Homo sapiens: one gene and its partner. The protein of the gene in region 1 binds, or shares a complex with, the protein of each later gene. Each region holds a gene or a part of one and is shown in the gene's direction. Other genes may lie near its edges.

Region 1 (5,102 bases):
GTGCAGTGGGACGATCTTGGCTCACCACAACCTCCGCCTCCCGGGTTCAAGTGATTCTCCTGCCTTAGCCCCTCGAGTAGCTGGGATTACAGGCGCCCGCCACCATGCCCGGCTAATTTTTGTATTTTTAGTAGAGACGGAGTTTTCACCATGTTGGCCAGGCTGGTCTCGAACTCCTGACCTCAGATGATCCACCCGCCTCAGCCTCCCAAAGTGCCAGGATTACAGGCATGAGCCACCGCGCCCAGCTTAGTTATAGTTATAATCAAACAGTATTGAGCATGGTCTGCCAGGTAACTGTTCTACATCCTTTACGTGGAACATCTCACTTGAGCCTAGTAACCCTATATGTAGAAACTGTGGTTACCCTATTTTGCCACTGAAGGAATTACATACAGAGAGACACGGGCATTCAGAGAACAAGTCACTTGCCTAAGTTGTATGCTAGCAAGTGGTCGAGCTAACGTCCAACCCAGGCAGCCTGACTTCAGAGCTTTGCTTTTGATCATGCTTACGAGTATCACGGGATTTAGTACCGACCAAGCACACAGCAGTGTGACAGCCCCGAGCTCGCCTGTGCAGCCTTCCTGGGTATCACTCCGTTCTGCCCGGAAAGGCACCATTCAGGCCGTGAGTGTAAACGTACGAGTGGGCAGGGGGAGTGGTAGAAACGCCCCTGCTGATTGCAGGGTTTACTCACGTATTTACCTTAACGCCCGTTCTTCTGCGACTACTATAAACATTAAATGAGATAGGGGATCAGATGTCACCGTGAAACAATGTCAGGGAGTGGGGTGGGGCTGGGGGGGATTTTTGGGGCCATTCAGCCCCATCGTGTCTGGACAGGGAAGGTGAAGTGAAGAGAGGCTGCCTCCCCAGAGCTGAGACAGGACAGACTCGGTCCTCTCCCTCTGCTGCAGGTGCTCTTCCTTTCACCACTCAGCTTTTCTTGAAATGAAAGTTTGAAAGTTTAGCTTTCAGAACTAGCTGTGTGGCTTTGTGCAAGTCACATGTCCTCTCTGGGCTGTATCCCCTGCAGTAGGGAGAATAAATGAAACTAGAGAAACCCTCTAAAGTCCATCTCACTAGGATTCTAGGCTTCTGGGTGTTTGGGAGCTTGGGTAAAGAATCAGAAGGGCCTGTGCTGGAGAAAGGACCTGTTCACTCGCCCAGCCCCAGACATTCAGGAGGAGGCTGTCACTCACTGGAATGACTGAACTCTGAACCCGTGCGTCTGTTCCCTCCCGCTGGGCTCACTGAAACCACTGAAGCAAAAGGGGTTTCACTGCTCCACACCACACTTTCACTGCTCACAAACTACTTCTCCCTTTTTGAAGGACGAGTCTCGAATTAAGGCCACTGTGATGGACGTGAAGCCCGTGGACTACAGAGAGTATGGCCGAAGGCTGGTCATGAGCATCAGGAGAAGTGCATTGATGTGAGAGGAGCAGTGCCAATCGGGCAGAAGTTTGCAAATAGGCAGAATGGAATCGATTTCCTCCCACCTCCGTGTGACGATCCCATGTTAGCTACACAGTGCAGAGGCTCTTGATGGTGGACTAAGCAATTTCCCCCCTCGTGCGCATCTCAGAACCCATCGGTAGGCAAAGGAAAATACGCTCAGGTGGTTGTGGTGTAGACTGTGTCAGGCCTACGGAGTCAGCCAGTGGCTAGCGCAAGACCAGTCACTCCCTCTGCCTTCAGGCTTCTGTCAATTTCATTATCATCAAGCAGGAATTATGTCGTAAGTCACTGACCCTAACTGCAGACCATGAAGTAAATTATGTAACTAGGTTTTTGCTTCTCCAGTGGTGACCACCCCCCCCCATCCCCGCTCACAACTTGGGTTCTTCTCAGCGGGGCGAGCTGAGAAGCGGTCATGAGCACCTGGGGATTTTAGTAAGTGTGTCTTCCTAGAATTCGAAGGCTCTCTCTTTCTAGAGGTGCTACATAGTTGGTAATGCTTGGAATGGCAATAGGGTAGAATGATTAATCAAAGGCATATCTTCTATATCTGAAGAGTATCCTTCCTTCAGGGTTTAATAGACTGAGTCAGATGGGTCTGATATTAATCAAAATTGTCTCTTCTGAGGACCGCTGATAAGCATTGACTTGCCGTCCCCTAAGGAAATCCGAGCGGCTACAAAGCGTTTCTTTACTTCTCACTTCAATTAATGCTGCGCTTCGCTTGGTGAGTGCGTACTTTTTCTACCTGTACACATTCCTGCATTCATGTATTTTGTTTTTTTTGACTAAAGCTATGTTACATGGAAAGGATTTTGAAGCCTTTTGTTTCCCTTGCTTTGTTTTAATAAACAGTATATTCTTTGGTTGTGAATCCTACTTTCTTTGAATGCAAAGAGTTCCTATAACTGGAAAGCAATTAATTAGCCTTCATAATAAATGTTCACTTGGGGGGGATGTTAACTCATTATAAACCCGAAGATTAGTCCAAGGCATGGAGATCCTTCTTCCTAGTGTTTGCAGCCCTGAAATGCATCTTTCAAAGCATGAAAACACTAAAAACAAAAAGCCATTTTGCCTGAGGATGCTGATGATCTGGCACTTGGGATTTTATTGATGTTTACGCAGCAGTCTAACACCAACCACGCTTTGAAATGTGTACAGACAGTGAGCTGGTAAGAAAACAGTAATTATGCTAGTGGGCCTTTCAGTCAGCAAAAGCATGCTCGCTCTGTGTGTTCCTAATCATATTAATTATCTATCCGGTGGCTGCAACACACCGCCTGCCATTGGCCGCACATCTCGCCGTCGTACCCCGGCAGTGCGGCGGTCACTCTGCAGCCAGAGGACCTGCTGTTCATCACTGCACATGCCGCCTGCGGAGGCTTTTGGATATGGGGAGTGATGGTGTCCTGTCTGTCTCCCCCCTCGGTGTCTGCCGTTGACATAGGGGCCAGCCAGCCCTAGACGGGATGACTTCCGTTCCTGAGGACAGACACAGAGGGACTCCTGCTCAGCCTCACTAATTGTTTAGACACATTCCTTCCTACCCTTCTCTAGTCTCAGGAGATGGTAACTGGGTCGCATTTCAGTCTCTGACTGAGGCCTCAGCCATTTTTACGGAAGTTCTTTTCTGTCTGACCTTGCTTATAAAGCATCGACGAGAAAATTACAGTCTTCAACCCTCTTCTGGATTGACAAATTGTGGCTGGGAAGTGGCGATCTAGCTTTCAGCCCAGTAACCAGTCTTTCATGCCTACTACTCCCAGCATTCCCTCCTCTCCCCACGTGTCTGTCCACACAGTGAAGAGGCCTGACCAGCCGTGGTACCAGGACAGGACGTGTCCAGGGAACGCTGACACCTGTCCTCGCGCCTTCTCAGTGGCCAGCGTGATGAAACCAGCACGTCTCCGTGGATGTGATTGGGAACCCAGGGGCAGTGCCAGGGGGAGGGCTCCCTCGAGGAGGCTGTTTCTAACAGATTTCCCCACTCAAAGATCAGATCACCAGCAGAGGAGCATCAGAAACTGGCTCCACTGTTGGGCTTTTCAGAGATTTTGGTCCCTGCGGGTTGCCTAAATAGATTCTGGCCCACAGTTTACCTCGAAAGGCTGTTGATGTTGTTCTGTTTCTCCTCTTTCACTTAGAGATCAATGTTGATTTTGCGTACACCATGACATCAGCGTTAGGCAATTAGGAGAAAAAAATCTAATCATTTCGCCTTTATTTCAAGTGGTTCTTGAATTCCCTCCAGTCTCATTGTGAAAGGGGCAGGGAAAAAAATAAAAGGGTAATAATCTGATTTCTGTCCATATTTCCAGTGTTTTATGCTTTCCATTAAAACCTTGCTAATCTCTCGCGTGCTGTTCCTTTTTTGAACTGCAGGGTCAAAAATGTTCCCCTCCCCCACTTCTGTTTCCTGAGTGGGCTGTCTTCAAAAAGTATAAATACTATTGATCGTGGTATTTAATACACTAATGAAACCCATGGTTATTGACTACATAATTAATATACTGTCCAAAAGTGAAGTTTGGCCGCCCAGTATGTAAAGGTTTATATTGACTCATGTTTCTTTGGCAATATGCCGCCCAAGGTTTTATTTATAGAGGATGAAACAGGTTGTTTGGTCTCCTTTTCTTCTTTTCACCTGTTAGAAGGCCACTATTCCCCTAGTAAACTGATTGTTTCCTTGTCTCAAAGGGAAGATTCCCCCCACTCCCCGGCCACCTTTTATGTGGTTTGTTAACTCTTAGTCTTATATCCACTCCGCTGGTAGAGTTCTGGCTTTTATAAACACCTTTGGAAGTCATCGGTTCCTCAAAAAGAGAGCATAGATGTTTAATTTTCACTTATTCAAAAAAACTGGTATTTTTGTTATTAAGACATTAAGTAAATGTTTAAGAAAAAAAAGGATAATTTGGACTATTGACTTTCTTATGCAAGTAATCATATTTGTTTGTTTGTTTGTTTATTTATTTTGAGACGGAGTCTTGCTCTGTCACCCAGGCTGGAGTGCAGTGGCACGATCTCAGCTCACTGCAACCTCCGCCTCCCAGGTTCAAGCGATTCTGCCTCAGCCTCCTGAGTAGCTGGGACTACAGGCATGTGCCACCATGCCTGGCTAATTTTCTGTATTTTTAGTAGAGACGGGGTTTCACCGTGTTAGCCAGGATGGTCTCGAACTCCTGACCTTGTGATCCACCTGCCTCGGCCTCCCAAAGTGCTGGGATTACAGGTGTGAGCCACCGCGCCCGGCCTCCATGTTTATTTTAGGAAAATAATCTACAGTTAAGAAAAACAAAATTGGCCTGGCACAGTGGCTCATGCCTATAATCCCAACACTTTGGGAGGCTGAGGCGGGCAAATCGCTTGAGCCAAGGAGTTCGAGACCAGCCTGGGTAACATAAGGAGACCCCCGTCCCTACAAAAAAATAAAAATTAGCTGGGCGTGGTGGCACACACCTGTAGTCCCAGCTACCTGGGAGGCTGAGGTGGGAGAATCACCTGAGCCGTGGGAGGTCAAGGCTGCAGTGAGCCATGATTGCACCACTGCACCCCAGCCTGGGCGACAGAGCGAGACCCTATCTCAAAAAAAGGGGGAGAAAGGGTGGGTGCGGTGGCTCTCCCTTGTAATCCCA
Region 2 (6,904 bases), on another chromosome or scaffold:
TTGACAATTTATATGAAATGGAAAAATACCTTGAAAAATTCAACCAAGACTGACATAGATGAAACAGAAAATCTGTGTAGCCAATTAAAGAAAGTGAGGCCAGGCGTAGTGGTTCATGCCTGTAATCCCAGCACTTTGGGAGGCCAAAATGGGAGGATCACTTGAGCCCAGGATTTTGAGACCAGCCCAAACAACATAGTGAGACCCTGTGTCTGCTTTTAAAAATATACCTGGACATAGTGATGTGCACCTATAGTCTCAGCTACTTGGGAGGCTGAGGTAGGAGGATCAACTGAGTCTAGGGAGGTCAAGGCTACAGTGAGTTGTTATTGCAGTACTGCATTCCAGTCTGGGTGACAGAGTGAGACCCTGTCTCAAAAAATTAAGAAATTGAGGGCCGGGCGTGGTGGCTCACGCCTGCAATCCCAACACTTTGGGAGGCTGAGGCGGGTGGATCACCTGAGGTTGGGAGTTCGAGACTACCCTGACCAACATGGAGAAACCTCGTCTCTACTAAAAATACAAAATTAGCTGGGCGTGGTGGCACATGCCTGTAATCCCAGCTACTTGAAAGGCTGAGGCAGGAGAATTGCTTGAACCTAGGAGGTGGAGGTTGTGGTGAGCCAAGATCATGCCACTGCACTCCAGCCTGGGTGACAGAGACTCTGTCTCAAAAACAAACAAAAAAACCCTTAGATGGTAACAGTAACATCATAGATGACCCAGATATCCTTTGAAAAAAAACAAAAAAAACACAAGTACTTTCATTTAAAAAGATACGGCAGTGGCCAAGCACGGTGGCTCATGCCTGTAATCCCAGCACTTTGGGAGGTCGAGGCGGGCGGATCACAAGGTCAGGAGATCGAGACCATCCTGGCTAACACGGTGAAACCCCATCTCTACTAAAAATACAAAAGATTACCCGGGTGTGGTGGTGGGTGCCTGTAGTCCCAGCTACTTGGGAGGCTGAAGCAGGAGAATGGTGTGAACCCGGGAGGTGGAGTGTGCAGTGAGCCGAGATCACGCCACTGCACTCCAGCCTGGGTGACAGAGCGAGACTCCGTCTCAAAAAAAAAAAAAAAAAACCTTTCCACAAAGAAAACCCCAGGGCTAGGTAGTGAAGTGTACTAAATAGCTAAGGAATAATCTCAGAAACTTCTAGAAATTAGAAGAGAGCACTTCCCAACTCATTTTATGATGCCAGTATAACCCTGATACCCAAACCCCACAATGCTGTTATAAAACAGAAAATTACAAATCAGTATCCTTCAAGAACTTAGATGGGCTGGGTTTGGTGGTTCACACCCATAATCCCAGCACTTTGGGAGGCTGAGTTGAGAGGATTGCTTGAGCTTAGGAGTTCAAGACCAGCTTGGGCAACACAGCAAGAGCTTGTGTCTACTAAAAATAAAAAAATAAATTAGCTGGGTGTGATGGCACACTCCTGTAGTCTCAGCTACTTGAGAGGCTGATAGGGGAGAATCACTTGAGCCTGGCAGATCGAGGCTGCAGTGAGCTGTCATTGTGCCACAGCACTACAGCCTGGGTGACAGAGCAAGTTCCTGTCTCAAGAAACAAAACAACCAAAAAACCAACAGATGGAAAAATTCTTAACAACAGAGCAAATCAAATCCAGTAATACATAAAACGTTTATTATGTCATGACCAATTTGGGTTTATCCTAGGAATGCAAAGTTTTTTTTAACATTGTGAAATCAATGGTAAAGCTTCTCATAATAACAGAATAAAGGAGAAAAACCATACAGTCCTTCTATAGATGCAATAACTGCTTGACAAAATCCAGCATTTATTCGTTATCAAAATGAATCATATTTAGAACAAAGGGGTCTTCCTCAATCTAATAAAGGACATTTTGGCAGAGTATACCTTTATACTTTCCAACAATGACCAGAACACATCCCAATTCATATGGTTTTATTTTTTTTTTTAGATGGATTCTCGCTGTTGCCCAGGCTGGAGTGCGGTGGCACAATCTTGCTCACTGTAACCCCTGCCTCCCAGGTCCAAGCGATTCTCCTGTCTCAGCCTCCCAAGTAGCTGAGATCACAGGCATGCGCCACCATGTCTGGCTAATTTTTGTATTTTTAGTAGAGATGGGGTTTTGCCATGTTGGCCAGGCTGGTCTCAAACTCCTAACCTCAGATGATCCTTCCGCCTCAGCCTCCCAAAGTGATGAGATTACAGGCGTGAGCCACCAGGCCCCATATGCTTTTCTTATGTGTCGTTGACACTCATCCCATCAAGAGGTAGGAACTGTGTTCCCCTTCCCTTGAATCTGGCTGAGTGGGCCTGTGACTACCGTGATGTTATATCACTTGCAAAGGTAGGTCATAAAGCTGTTGATATCAGGGACAAATACTAATAGAATAACTCCCATTCCAGTGTGTACATATTTGAAAGCCCATGTACATGATAAATATATTAACTTTTTGCCAATTTTTTTTTTCTTTTAGACTGAGTCACTCTTTCACCTAGGCTGGAGTACAGTGGTGTGATCTCAGCTCACTGCAACCTCTGCCTTCCAGGCTCAAGTGATTCTCCTGCCTCGGTCTTCTGAGTAGCTGAGATTACAGGAGTGCACCACCACACCCGGCTAATTTTTATATTTTTAGTAGAGACTGGGTTTCACCATGTTGGCCAGGCTGGTCTTGACCTCCTGACCTCAAGTGATTCACCCGCCTCGGCCTCCCAAGGTGTTGGGATTACAGGCCTGAGCCACCGGGCACCCGGCGCATTTTATCTATTTAAAAAATGAATAACAAAAATCAGGATAACAGTTATACCACTGATATTTAACATGGCTCTGGATGTTCTTGTCAGTGCCTCCAGATGAGAGAAGTATATAAATATCAAAAATCGGTGCACACCACTGTGCCCAGCAAGGAAACATCTTTTAAAAATGGGAGACACCAGGCCATATTAGAGGCTCAATCCAATAGTGAGGGCGAGGCTGATGATACAAGAGAATAATTGAAGAAGCGATGCCCTTGAGAATGCTTGAAGCCCTGGGATGCCAAGTGCAAGTGGAGCGATTGCCCTTTAACCAGAAGAACACTTTGTCTGCTATTGAAAAAAGGTGGAAAGAGGTTATGAAGAATGGTGCAGATATTAGAAGTTTTGTAGAATTTTTTTTTTTGGAGACGGAGTCTCGCTCTACCCAGGCTGGAGTGCCGTTGCAGGATCTGCAATCTCCACCTCCCGTGTTCAATTTATTCTACCTCAGCCTCCTCCCGAGTAGCTGGGATTACAGACGCATGCCACCACGCCCGGCTAATTTTTGTATTTTTAGTAGAGATGGCGTTTCACCATGTTGGCCAGGCTGGTCTCAACTGCTGACCTCGTGATCCTCCCGCCTCAGCCTTCCGAAGTGCTGGGATTACAGGCGTGAGCCTCCATGCCTGGCCAGAAGTTTTGTAGATTTAGCCGTGGCATGATCAAGGAGTTCCTATCCGACAGTTTCTATTTTCTCAATAAGTTTTCTGAAAAAAAGGGGAGAGGCTGTTTCCCAGGGAGTGCACAATTCTGAAGGCTAACCAGGGGCGCCTGGTTTTGGGCAACTACAAATGTGGTTGTGTTCAAACTAAGCGTGTAAAGGTTGTGTTCAAACTAAGCTGGGCGCCTGTAGTCCCAGCTACTTGGGAGGCTGAAGCAGGAGAATGGTGTGAACCCGGGAGGTTTCGGACACGGGTTGGAGTGTCAAGAGAGAAGGCAGGAGCGTTTAGTCTGCTTCAGATATGAAGACTCCCTGTATTCCCAGTCCTAAGCAAGGGAGCAAAGGCAGGGGACAGAGCCCTGCTGCTCAGGTGAGGGGCCCCACGTGGAACGCGCCGGCGCGGGAGGGGCGGCCTGGCGCAGGTCATTTGGGACATCTGCGGGTTGGCGCATGCGCGCGAGGTGCGCAGGCTCGCGCCTTTTTCCCTTTTCTAAGCTTTCTGTGTTACCCCCGGTTCCGCTGTCTTTTCTGTCTACAGTTTGCGATCCCCGCGTCCAGGATGGAGCAGCTGAACGAACTGGAGCTGCTGATGGAGAAGAGTTTTTGGGAGGAGGCGGAGCTGCCGGCGGAGCTGTGAGCGGAGAGGGGGGAGGGTGTGGGAACAAAGCGGGAGATTTGAAAGAAGGAGCGGGAGAGGCTGCGTCCGCACCGCCTCAGACTGACCGGGCCCGGGGCCCAGGGACCCGGTGCAGCTCCCTGGGCACCCGACGAGCCTCCGGAGTCGGGGCCTGCCTCCCAAGGTGTTCTTTGGGGCCACATTCAGCCAGAGCCTGGACTCTCCCTCGCCGAGCAGTTCATTGTTTCCCTTGATTTCACCTCTCTCCCTAAGTTGAGGAGTTTCGGCCACTGGAATGTTTTTATAATAGGAAATTGCAACCGCCGTAGGCTTTTCTCGATGTTTAGTTGGATTAACTTATCCTTGGGGGATCTCTGCACCCTCAGCATGGTGTATATAAATGATCAGAGGAAGTTAACCACGGTCATAATGTGGAATTACTTTCAATATTATAGCAATAATGCTAATTAGCGTTGAGGGACTTTTGCGTTTGGGCTTTTGATCAGCAATACCTTTTGAGAAACATCTTTAAGGCATCATAGCCAATCTTGCGAAATTCATGGCCTGAGGTTAGGTGGACTACAGGAATAAAGCGTTTGCAAAATAATAGAACCTACGGTCAGGTAACAAAAGATAACTTGCAGTGTAATGTGAAAGGCGTTTGGTGTTATCACTGGAGAGGTAATGACTTTGGACCCTCCTTTGGTCCCTCACTGATGCCTCAGTCAAACGGGGAAGACTTAAGAGGTACTTAATAGGAGAAGGGCTGTTTTCTTGAGAGATTATTATTTTGCATAATTTTAGACAGCTTGGACCGATGGATGAAAGTATTGACAAATTGACTTACCCACTATAAATATAAGTAATAAAGTTCTGAATTACTCTGTAAAGGATTGAGCTAAATCGATAGGTATTAAGCCTGCTTTCTGTCCAGTGAGATTTTATCGAAAGATTTCCGGCATTACTTTAGCAGGTTGGACTAAATTATTTCTAAGTACAATTCTGTGGCTCATGATAGGACTTTCAGTGAACCACGGACAATACCCTTTTCCGTAACATAAGTCTCATATTTACAAAAAGGATCGTGTCCAAAACATCTCCTTTTACTTGTACTTTGGGAAGGCTTGCACCAGTGGTAGAAATTTCTTGTTTAATGTTGTCCAATTTATACTTTCCTTTCTTTTTTCTCCGCCAGAACCGGGGTCTTTTTCTGTCGCTCAGGAAGGGGTGCAGTAGCATGATCGTATCTCACTGCAGCCTCAAACTCCTGGGCTCAAGCAGTCCTTCCACCTCAGCCTCTTGAGTAGCTGGGACTACAGGTGTGCGCCATCATGCCTGGCTTCCAGTTTATTCTTAATCCTCATTGTAATGAGTGTCCCACAGAACGCTTTACAGAAATTAAAATGGAAAATCTCATATCATGAGCATGTTTGAAATGGCATTACTTCTGGGAAGTTTTTATAATAGGAATTCTTCTGTGTCTTTGCTCTCTTAATTTTACCTATTTTGTCTAAATGTCATTGCAATAAGCTTTTCAGAAGAAAGAAACCTAGAAAACTGGAAGATTGGTTTGTAGATAAAACATATTGGATGGCTTCTTATTTCATGGTTGTGCTAAAATAGTTTTGTATGTGTGTGCTTTAGATTTCAGAAGAAAGTGGTAGCTTCCTTTCCAAGAACAGTTCTGAGCACAGGAATGGATAACCGGTACCTGGTGTTGGCAGTCAATACTGTACAGAACAAAGAGGGAAACTGTGAAAAGCGCCTGGTCATCACTGCTTCACAGTCACTAGAAAATAAAGAACTATGCATCCTTAGGAATGACTGGTAATTTTTATGTGACTTTGAGCACCGATTTGAATCTTAAGGGTACTGTCGTAAAACTCATCAAATGGCTTCTGTGAATGTTACTATAATTTAATTGTTTAAAAGGGAGTAGGTTTGATCTTAGCCTAATTCTGCATGAAAATTGTATCTATTACTCCTGTATCTCAAGTCTCATATTCCAAAAATTGACTTTTGTTGTCATTTGAAAATCACGTGGGCCAGGCATGGTGGCTCACACCTGTAATCCCAGCACTTTGGGAGGCCAAGGCAGGCGGATCACCTCAGGTCAGGAGTTTGAGACCAGCCTGACCAACATGGAGAAACCCAGTCTCTACTAAAAATAAAAAAAAATTAGCTGGGTATGGTGGCACTTGCCTGTAATCCCAGGTACTCTGGAGGCTGAGGCAGGAGAATTGCTTGAACCTGGGAGGTGGAGGTTGTGGTGAGCTGAGATCATGCCATTGCACTCCAGCCTAGGCAACAAGAGCGAAACTTCATCTCAAAAAAAAGAAAAGAAAATCACGTACAAAGGACCTTATTAATGACTACTTCCTATTTCCCAGTACATTCTTTTTTTTTTTTTTTTTTTTGTATTTTTAGTAGAGACAGGGTTTCACCATGTTAGCCAGGATGGTCTCGAATCCCCTGACCTCGTGATCCGCCCACCTCGGCCTCCCAAAGTGGTGGGATTACAGGCGTGAGCCACCGCGCCCGGCCTTCCCAGTACATTCTAAGATTGCAGTTTAAACACATGTTAGTTTTAACTAAAAGCAAAATTAATTAAAACATATGGACATTCTTAGGCCTTAGATTTCTCTACCCAAAGTGTGGTATGTGAGGGGTGGAGTGTAGATGCAGAAAAGCTAGAGGTCTAACTTTGACTCTTCGTCTAAGCCGTGAATTAATTTGTTTTTTGTTGTTGTGGTTTTTGGAGACGGAGTCTTGCTCTGTCGCCCAGGCTAGAGTGCAATGGCGTGATCGCGGCTCACTGCAACCTCCGCTTCCTG

What was found.
Region 2: the proteins of RPA1 (region 1) and DNA2 are in contact, whole or in part, in a crystal structure (PDB 5EAY), measured with the Homo sapiens proteins. Residues at the interface, in NP_002936.1 of Homo sapiens: Asn29, Ile30, Arg31, Ile33, Arg41, Arg43, Leu44, Leu45, Ser54, Ser55, Met57, Asn85, Leu87, Lys88, Arg91, Val93, Ile95; in NP_001073918.2 of Homo sapiens: Glu6 (codon at 4,029), Leu7 (codon at 4,032), Glu8 (codon at 4,035), Leu10 (codon at 4,041), Met11 (codon at 4,044), Lys13 (codon at 4,050), Ser14 (codon at 4,053), Phe15 (codon at 4,056), Trp16 (codon at 4,059).

What each region holds. Positions count from the first base shown.
Region 1 is NC_000017.11:1,895,734-1,900,835, forward strand, and holds the end of RPA1 (replication protein A 70 kDa DNA-binding subunit), read left to right. Parts: intron 1-1,337; coding exon 1,338-1,442; 3' UTR 1,443-4,349; downstream 4,350-5,102. UniProt on the Homo sapiens protein: As part of the heterotrimeric replication protein A complex (RPA/RP-A), binds and stabilizes single-stranded DNA intermediates that form during DNA replication or upon DNA stress.
Region 2 is NC_000010.11:68,468,974-68,475,877, reverse strand, and holds the start of DNA2 (DNA replication ATP-dependent helicase/nuclease DNA2), read left to right. Parts: upstream 1-3,904; 5' UTR 3,905-3,992; coding exon of another isoform or gene 3,993-4,013; coding exon 4,014-4,087; intron 4,088-5,714; coding exon 5,715-5,897; intron 5,898-6,904. UniProt on the Homo sapiens protein: Key enzyme involved in DNA replication and DNA repair in nucleus and mitochondrion.